Regions from separate parts of the Homo sapiens genome. Here region 1 is reported to be linked to region 2. The links are microRNA targets in miRTarBase. Many come from high-throughput screens and were not tested one by one. Region 2 holds a microRNA gene; the other region holds the end of a gene's coding sequence. Distances are between the middles of the regions.

Region 1 (4,391 bases), 14 Mb from region 2:
TCCCCATTCAGACTGGCCCTTTTGGCCATCAAAGAGCCAATCTGTACCTCCACCAATAAGAGAGCAATAAAACGGCCCCTTAACTAATTCTGATGCAAAGTGTGTAGTAACCAGCTTTGAAATTAGTTTCTAGATGAGATTTATTTCAGGAACATCTATGAATTTTAATGACTGCTCTCTCATTGTTATCCAGCAGCAGAGTTAGTGAAGTGTGGTCTGAGTAGCTCAGCAAATACTGAATGAAGTGCCTGGGATGCAGCCAGCAGAGCCCTGTTTGTGCCCAAGCATGGAACCAGCAAACTGGCTGCTCCCCGGGGTGCAGGGTGTGCATCACTGGCTCCGTTGTGATCCAAGGGTTGAGGGCTTGCCCATGTGTATTACATCATTGAATCTTCACCAATATACACTCGGGTACATATTTATGTCCCCTTTTGACAAATGAGGAAGCTGAGGCACAGATTGTAAGAGGCAACTTGTAAGAGGCAAAATGGAGATTCAGATCCTGGTTTGCCTTCTAAGCACTAGCTCTGAGATAGCTTGCCTAGCAGATAAATCTCACCTCCCCTGAACCCTGTTCCCAAAGGTCCACCTTAAAATACTACAGGGGGATTCAAGATGATTCTGTTCCTACAGGAGGCTTTTTTGGGGGGTTTGCTGAGTTGGGAGTGGGGACTAAGTGCACGTAGAGGGAAGGTTGTTCTATTTCAACACAATTTAGCAGAATTTATAAGCAATACACTGCCCATTCTGTGTTAATCAAACTGAATAAATATAGTGTTATCTACTTTTTAAAAAATGCACCTGAGAAATTTTTTTTTTCTTGCTTGTTTTTTCCAAATACCAATTAGGCTAGTTAGCTCAAGAAAGAAAGGCCCTGTTTCTAACACAGTATGTTACAGCAAGCACCGTATCCATGTAAATATCTATTTTTTTTCTATCATTCTTAGAACTTCAACTTCTCCTGATCCTTAAAAATGTTTGGTTTAGATTGATACTGGTGACCACCGATGGGTTTTAACAAGGAAACGACTGGAAGCATTTCCACTTACTAAAGTTTATTAAGTACAAAGAAATGAATCTGCGGAAGGAGACATCAATAAATATAAAATACACGTGAAACATTGGAGGAGTCACAGACTGCAGTGTCAGTGAGAATATGTGACAATGGCGGGGACTGTGTGACTCAGATGTCTCTAAGTCTGAGTTTACAGTCAAGGGGTTAAACCTTTACAGCGCCCAAGGGACTCAGTGCACCAGCATGAGCTCGAAGGGTTGTGAATTCAGTGATAGGTCTCAAGGGGAGATGGGATGCCACATTCCTGAGATTTCTCCCTAATTGCCATTTTTGGTTTCTGCTCCTTCCTCCCCTCTGTCCTTTTTTTTTTTTGAGTTAGGGTCTCGCTCTGTTGCCCAGGCTAGAGTGCAGTGGTGCCATCTCAGCTCACTGCAACCTCCACCTCCAGGGTTCAAGCAATTCTTGTGCCTGAACCTCCCAAGTTGCTGGGATTACAGGTGTGAGCCACCATGCCTGGCTAATTTTTTGTATTTGAGTAGACAGGGTTTCACCATGTTGGCCAGGCTGGTCTTGAACTCCTAACCTCAAGTAATCCACCCACCTCAGCCTCCCATGCTGGGATTACCTGCATGAGCCACTGCTCCTGGCCCGCTCTGTCCTTAAATAGTGTTATTTTAATTTCCATCCCAGCCATAGGAGACACGAATGTCTAAACACCTCATTAGGGCAGGCAGTCTACTCTGAAGGTGGAATTGCCTTTGTCTAGGGTCTTCTTAATCAGGATCATTAAAACTTCTATAATTATTTTACACAACTGTGAGGGCAGTGGAGTGGACACTGTTATAATAATAAATTCTGGCTTTTTGGAAATCTTCCAGAACCAATAAAACAAATTAGTTATGCCCAGAGCTGATGACCTGCAAAAACTTCTACTTATTTAGCTGTTACAGTTTGGGCTTGATTCATTCCCCTGGAGAAGGGAATTTGACCCTGGCTCACTTGCTTCCATCTGGAATGAGAAAGCACAGCACTGCTGCAGGACACCACCTGAGTCGTTACTCCAGACAACAGTGAGGCAGATGCAGTCATGTTTGCCCACACCCTCCTGACCGGCTGCCTTTCTGGATGGCTTGGTCTGTTCATGATATACTTCAGGGGTGAATGTGTGCGTGGGTTGTTGCAAAGCAAATTTCTTTTTCGCTGGTTTCCCTCCCCTCCCTGCCTGATTTCCTTTAAAGGGCAGCTATTTTGAGCACAGCCCAGGGATCAGTCTGTTTCCTTCTATTTTTTCTCCTTCCTCTGTCACAGTCTTCCCCGACCAAAGATGGGGAACATCAGGGGTCAGGCAGCAAGCAAAAACACATTTCCACTCCCTACAGGATCAAGAAGAGGGAGTGAAGAGCAGGACCAGCCCGGCCTGACCTTTTCCATATTCAGAGTGGCTGAGCTTGCACACATCTCCCCACAGACAGGTGCCCACCACAAGGGAATGAATGTGGAGTTGTCAGGCAAGGTTCTCCTTTAGCTCAGAAGGGAGCTAGGTTTTGCCTGACGGGTGGCTCCAAGGATCCTAAGATGGGGGCAGTGAGGCACTAGGTATTTGTGGCAGGTATTTCACACGATGTTTCGTTCTACACTTTTTCATGTCATATTTTCCATGGAAGTCCACACTCGAAGCAAGGGCAGAAGGGGAGACCTCTGAGATACAACTGGTAGTTTAGCATAATGATGAGTTGTGTATGTTTTTAATCTGTAGGGAAGAAATACCAAAATCTCATAAAGCTGGCTACTGGGATGGGACTGGGAACTTGGAGGGAACAGGATGAAAGTGACAGAGACTTGGGCACGAGGGACACTGTAAACAGTAGGAGCACTGGCTACTTGGAGGATTATTCAGTTACAAAAGGGGCCCTGTGGTTGGCATCGGAGGGCCAAGCCCACTCTTGCCTTTACTTTGTGATGTATTACATTAGGCAGCAAAAAAAAAAAAAAAAAAAAAAAAAAAAATTCCCTGTACTGCAAAATGGAAGCGAGACATGGCACCTCGTTCCCTGGAGGCTGCGCGGCACTGTCTGGGTGTGGGGGACACGCTACTTCCTCTGAGCTGCATCATTGATAAGGCATTATTTGGTTTGATTTTGCAGTTAGTGTGATGAGAATATGAAATTATGCCAATAAGAAGCCGTTGTGGATATTTATAACTTTGGGGCTACCTGCAAACTAAGGACTCTCTACAAACGGTTCAGAATCTAGGAAGGGCCAGCCTGCAAGCAGATTCACAGTCATGGAGTGGGCACTAGGTGGAGGGACAGGGCTCTATCTGTGCTGACAAATGCCAAGATGCAATGCAAAAAATGGAAAAATGAGGGGTGTTTTAAAAAATATTACCGAAATAAAAGTCAATTAAAATACTGCTTTAAAGCCCGTGCAAATCACATATTTACAATAAATAAATTCTCAATTCCAAGCCTGTATGCCAACTGAATTACAGCTTGAGCATGGGGTGGGTGGGGTCTGACATGTTGTTCTGCAACCTGGAACCCCAGGACCTTCGCTTCATCTGTCTTCTCACCGAAGAGTCTTTAGAGATAACTGTGGAAACATAACAGAACATTACCAGGTGGAGTTAGAAGACTCTTGCACATGAAAGCCTTCCTCCTCCACCCCCCCAAACAGGCTGGGCCCCGAAGCTTCTCATTCATGCAAGGCTGTCAAGTTTGGGGAGATGCCTATGCAAAGAGCTGACTTTTACCCAAGGGGCTGTGGGTGGAAACCAGATGAAATGGGGTATGTAGTTGATGGTATGTGAGGACCTAATACTGTCTTATAAACATTTATAGAACCAATCATCAGCAATTCACTTGACAGGAAGCTCAGAGAAATAAAAAAAACGTGCTGGAGACCCCAAGTTAAGGCAGTGGAAAAGCAAGAAACCGATTTAGGCATTCAGACTTCCAGCCCAGGGCTCCCACCCCATGCACTGACCACTCTAGCCATAAAAAAGAGCAGTCCCTGGGGTATTGTTTGCAATGTCTAGAACCCAGTGATTTCTCAATTGTTTTGTGTCTCACTGCAGTGAGAATTAAGATGGTATCCAGTGAGATACAAAGATCTTCTTGACTGTGGAATGCCCAAAGGAGACTACAATCCACTTTGAGTAGACTTGCAGGCGGAGATCAAAACCACCAGACTCAGGTGATCTGGGTGCATGCCTGCCGTGAGGCTGGAGACCAGATCCTGCACAGTGTGTGACACGTTGGTAGTGAGGAGGATTCTTGTCCCTGGAGATTCTAACATGCCAGGAAAAGCAGTGAGGCATTATGGAAGAAGCACTGAACAAGAGGTCAGAAGGTTTGGGCATTGTGACATGGGCAAG
Region 2 (4,391 bases):
AGTGTGTGTATTTCTCCGACTTGCTTCTCCTTTTGGGTGCTCTGGGTTCAGGAATATGTAGATATGTTTTGTCTCTTCAAATCCATATACCTAGTGGCCAGGTGAGTATTTGACACATGAATGTATAGCAGTCATTGGGAAACTCCACAGCTCATGTTTTCCTCATAGTAGATGTGTGCTCCCATCTCCATGGCTTTGTCCCTCACAACCCCCACCCCATGGTAAGTCAGGCCAGTGTCCTCCCAGCTGCAGAGCTGAGAAGGCTGCACAGTTGCCTACTGAGAACCTGCCTAGTGGGTCAGAGCAAAGTGAGAACGGGCCTGTGCCCACCCACAGTGTTACTGTCAGCCCAAGCTCTTTGGGATGTAGTGGAAAGTCATGGTGGATACGGTGAGGAGAGATGGAACCCAAGGTGCTGGCTACAGAGCTCACTTGTGTTTCGTTTCAGGGCTCTCTTTACCTATGAAGGCAACAGCAATGACATCCGCGTGGCTGGCACAGGGGGTGAGTATGACTCCAAATGGACTCAGGGACACCAGGAGGTAGGAGGGTGACGACGAGGGGTCAGCGCACTCAGCTGTCTTGGTCCACTGAGCCACATGGGGCTTCCAGTGCTCACTGGCCACTTCTGGCAGGCCTTAGGTTTCAGATATGTGTAAGTGAAAACATTCCTCCTTGGTTCTCCTTCCCTCTGGGTGCAGGGGAGTGCTTTCTCTTTGTCTACTTGGGGAGAGCTGAGAGGGAAACAGGCCTCTCCAGCTTGTGGGCAGCCTGCGTTGGGAGCTGCGGTGGGAAGCTCACCAGTCCCAGAACTGGTGCTGGTGGAAAGAAAGTCCACAGACATATCTTCTTCTCCCTTTGTCCTGCCCTGGTCTTGTGCCGAGTGCTTGCAGGGGCCCCATCCTCACTGGGAGAGGCAGTATCACTGCAGATAGTCACGGGGGAGGCTCTGGAGGTCTCTACAGGAAGGACAGGCTCTTGGCCAGCACAGAGCAGAGGTTGTCAGGGTAGGCTTCGTCAGAGTGTGACCTGTGGGCCCCTCAGCTGACACCCGTGACTGCTCCTCCTCCAGAAGTTGCCTGACCCCTCCCTCTGTCCTGAGCTGGACATGGCTTCATTGTTCAATGAACACTCGGAGTGGTTCTCCACGGTTTGATGTCTGTTGTTGGTAGAAAGCCCCTTCCTTTCACAATCTTTCTGGGAGGTGTCCCCTTTCTAGAAGGATTGCCATTGAACAGTAGACATGTGGTGTGGCAGGTGACTGGGAGTTGCAGAGATCAACAACTTGAGAGTTTCCTGTCATCCCCAGTGGCACAGGACAGGGCTCTGCCACAAATGCAACAATTTGCTGTCCCCAGAGTGGGGCTCATGACTGCCTCCACTCATACGGAGCCCTGTAGATGAAATACCTGATCAGCTCTTCCTCCTTATAACCTGGAAAAGTTTGTGAGGGCTAAGCCTCAGTGTCAGGGAGAATTGTTTAGAGCTGCCCACTCCTGTGCTCCCCCTGTCCCCATCACCCTCTCTTCTGGAGTCTGAGGACTGAGCCAGTTACGCCACTGCAGGATGTTCAATCTGGTCTGGCCGTCTGGGTGGCCCTGGAACTTGAGCAGACACAGGTGCAGGCAGTGGTGACTCTACAGGCCCTGCTATTCCGGGCCCTTTTGCAACGTTGTGGCAACAATAAAATTTTGACGTAGCCATCCTCCATTTGGAAGTCTGGTGGCTGGTTTGCCGTGGAAATGACCCTGTTTTTATTTCCAGAATTACCTCTGGGTTTAGAGAAGTGGTTTTTAAACGAGTGTGGGTAAAAAAAATTACCTGAGGTACTTGTCAGAATCGCAGACTTCTAGGTCCCACCCAGCTCTCATCAATCAGTTTAGTGAGGGTGGTGCCCAGGACTCTGATTTTAAACATACCCCTAGAAAGATTCTGATACAGGTAGAGGTGAGAAGCCCTGGTTTAGAAGCAGCTCGGCCTCCCTTCATGGTGGGACCAGGGCCAGCAGGGAATGTCAGGGCCACCCCTGACCTTCACTGTGACTCTGCTGCAGAGGGTGGCCTGGAGGAGATGGTGGAGGAGCTCAACAGCGGGAAGGTGATGTACGCCTTCTGCAGAGTGAAGGACCCCAACTCTGGACTGCCCAAATTTGTCCTCATCAACTGGGTATGTGGAGCCTGTTTCATCTAGGTGTGACCCAGGAAACCCCATTGTCTTCTTTCCTGTTTTGACTTGACTTCAGGAACAAAGTGTTTTACTGGCATGACTTAGTAGATCAATAGAACAGCTCTGAGCTGGTGAATGAGCAGAATAGTTGACAGATTCATTGTGGCCCAAAGAATAACTGTGGCTTTGCTATGCAGAATTCACCTTCCAAGCCTAGAGTTCTTCCTGCAAAATGGATTAAAAGCAGTCACAGGGAGTCCTTGCTCCGTGCTCTTGAGGGTGGTTGTTCTGATGGAGTAGAGAGCCTGAGGGAGTGTTTAGGAGCCTGGGAGTACAGGGACAGGGCCTCCTTGATCCCTTGGTGGGGATCAAGAAAACTCTTGAAGGCTGGGTGGGGTGGCTCACACCTGTCATCCTAGAACTTTGGGAGGCCGAGGTGGGTGGACTGCCTGAGCTCAGGAGTTTGAGACCAGCCTGGGCAACATGGTGAAACCCCATCTCTACTAAAATACAAAAAATTAGCTGGGCATGGCAGCGTGCACCTGTAGTCCCAGCTACTCAGGAGGCTGAGGCAAGAGAATTGCTTGAACCCAGGAGGCAGAAGTTGCAGTGAGCCAAGATTGCGCCACTGTACTCCAGCCTGGGCCACAGAGCAAGACTCCATCTCCAAAAAAAAAAAAAAAAAGAAAATTCATGAAATGCCCCCACAGCGAAAGCCGGTAGCCATCCTGCCCAGGGAGAATCCATGAGCCCCTTGGAGGCATGGGAACTTACCTCACCCATGTGATGCAGTCAGAAGAATAGGTTCTGCTTTGGGGGTTGCAGTTTTCTCTTTTCTGGGACACAGGGTAGATGTTGGGTCCCCAGGGAAGGGAAGTGGCTTTGGGGGAGGCCTGGGTCAACCTGGGCATCCTTGTGTTGCAGACAGGCGAGGGCGTGAACGATGTGCGGAAGGGAGCCTGTGCCAGCCACGTCAGCACCATGGCCAGCTTCCTGAAGGTAAGGCCAGGTGAGGCCCGCTTCACTGGGAACAGGCCTCACAGGCTTGAGGTCTCGCAGGTTCCTGGGTGCGAGCAAGTGGGAATCAGAACTGGAGTTGGGAGTGTGCTCATAGCTAATGCTCTCTGCCTGCCTTTGAGGGCATGACCAGAGGCTGCTTCACTCTCGGTCAGTGAGTGCATGGGAGGTCAGGATGTTGCCAGGGCCACCTACAGGCCTGCCTCAGTGGGGCAGGATAAAGGACTATGCTGGAGCTGGTGCCGTGAGAAGGGTGGGCCCTGGTTCTGTTTTGTTTTATGATCCCTCTAAACAGTTTAGTAATACCGTCAGGATTTGGAGGAAGGGGAGAGTGCCCACCATCTTAGCACGCATGTGCCCTTTTGATGCATTCCTTTCCAGCCCCCTCTACATGGAGTTATGTCAGTCCTATAATAGAACCTTTTTAAATTTTAAAAACTATTTGTAACAAAAGCATTTGTTGGTCACTTGTCAGGTAACTTTTTGCATTTCTCTGGCAAAGGAGACTCAGAATTTTGATTTCTCGTTCTGCCAACATTTCTTCAGCTATACCTCAGTTTCCATCTAGGAGCTGATAAGAGAATTCCCAGCTTATCGATATACAGGTTTGAGTATCCTTTATCTGAAATGCTTAGGACCAGAAATGTTTTGGATTTTTTCAGATTTGGGAATGTTTTCAGTTCAGCATCCAAAATCCGAAATTCTCCAGAATCTGAATTTTTTTTTTTTTTTTTTGAGACTGAGTCTCGCTCCGTTGCCCAGGCTGGAGTGCAGTGGCGTGATCTTGGCTCACTGCAAGCTCCGCCTCCCGGGTTCACACCATTCTTCTGCCTCAGCCTCCCGATTAGCTGGGACTGCAGGCACCCGCCACCACGCCCAGCTAATTTTTTGTATTTTTAGTAGAGACGGGGTTTCACTGTGTTAGCCAGGATGGTCTCGATCTCCTGACCTCGTGATTTGCCCGCCTTGGCCTCCCAAAGTGCTAGGATTACAGGCGTGAACCACCACGCCCAGCCCAGAATCTGAGATTTTTTGAGTGCTGACATAATGCTTAAAGGAAATGTTCATTGGAGCAGTTCAGATTTTGGAATTTTAGGTAAGGGATGCTCAACCTGTATAGCAACAGTGAATGACGTCATGGGTCTGGCTTCTTATGAAGAAATCATTGGCTTACTTTTTGTAGAAAACATGCATGGCATTCTTTTATC

The links. Region 2 holds the annotated microRNA hsa-miR-6837-5p (ACCAGGGCCAGCAGGGAAUGU, at 1,995-2,015, shown strand). A microRNA usually pairs through its seed, bases 2 to 8, with sites in the 3' UTR of a target mRNA and lowers its output. Matches are read on the target gene's strand: a 7mer-m8 pairs with bases 2 to 8, a 7mer-A1 pairs with bases 2 to 7 and ends in A, and an 8mer does both.
Region 1: miRTarBase lists WIPF3 as a target of hsa-miR-6837-5p. Seed matches in the 3' UTR shown: 7mer-A1 at 1,459-1,465.

Annotation. Positions count from the first base shown.
Region 1 is chr7:29,913,709-29,918,099 of GRCh38, reverse strand. WIPF3 (WAS/WASL interacting protein family member 3) reads right to left here. Exons shown (of 9, transcript NM_001080529.3): 9 at 1,039-3,607. The coding sequence ends at 3,584. Among named protein-coding and RNA genes, the nearest start is that of FKBP14-AS1, 73 kb to the left of the region's middle.
Region 2 is chr7:44,049,777-44,054,167 of GRCh38, forward strand. MIR6837 (microRNA 6837) reads left to right here and starts at 1,990; the gene lies at 1,990-2,053. It overlaps DBNL (drebrin like), which reads left to right. Exons shown (of 13, transcript NM_001014436.3): 2 at 449-504; 3 at 2,054-2,166; 4 at 3,091-3,165.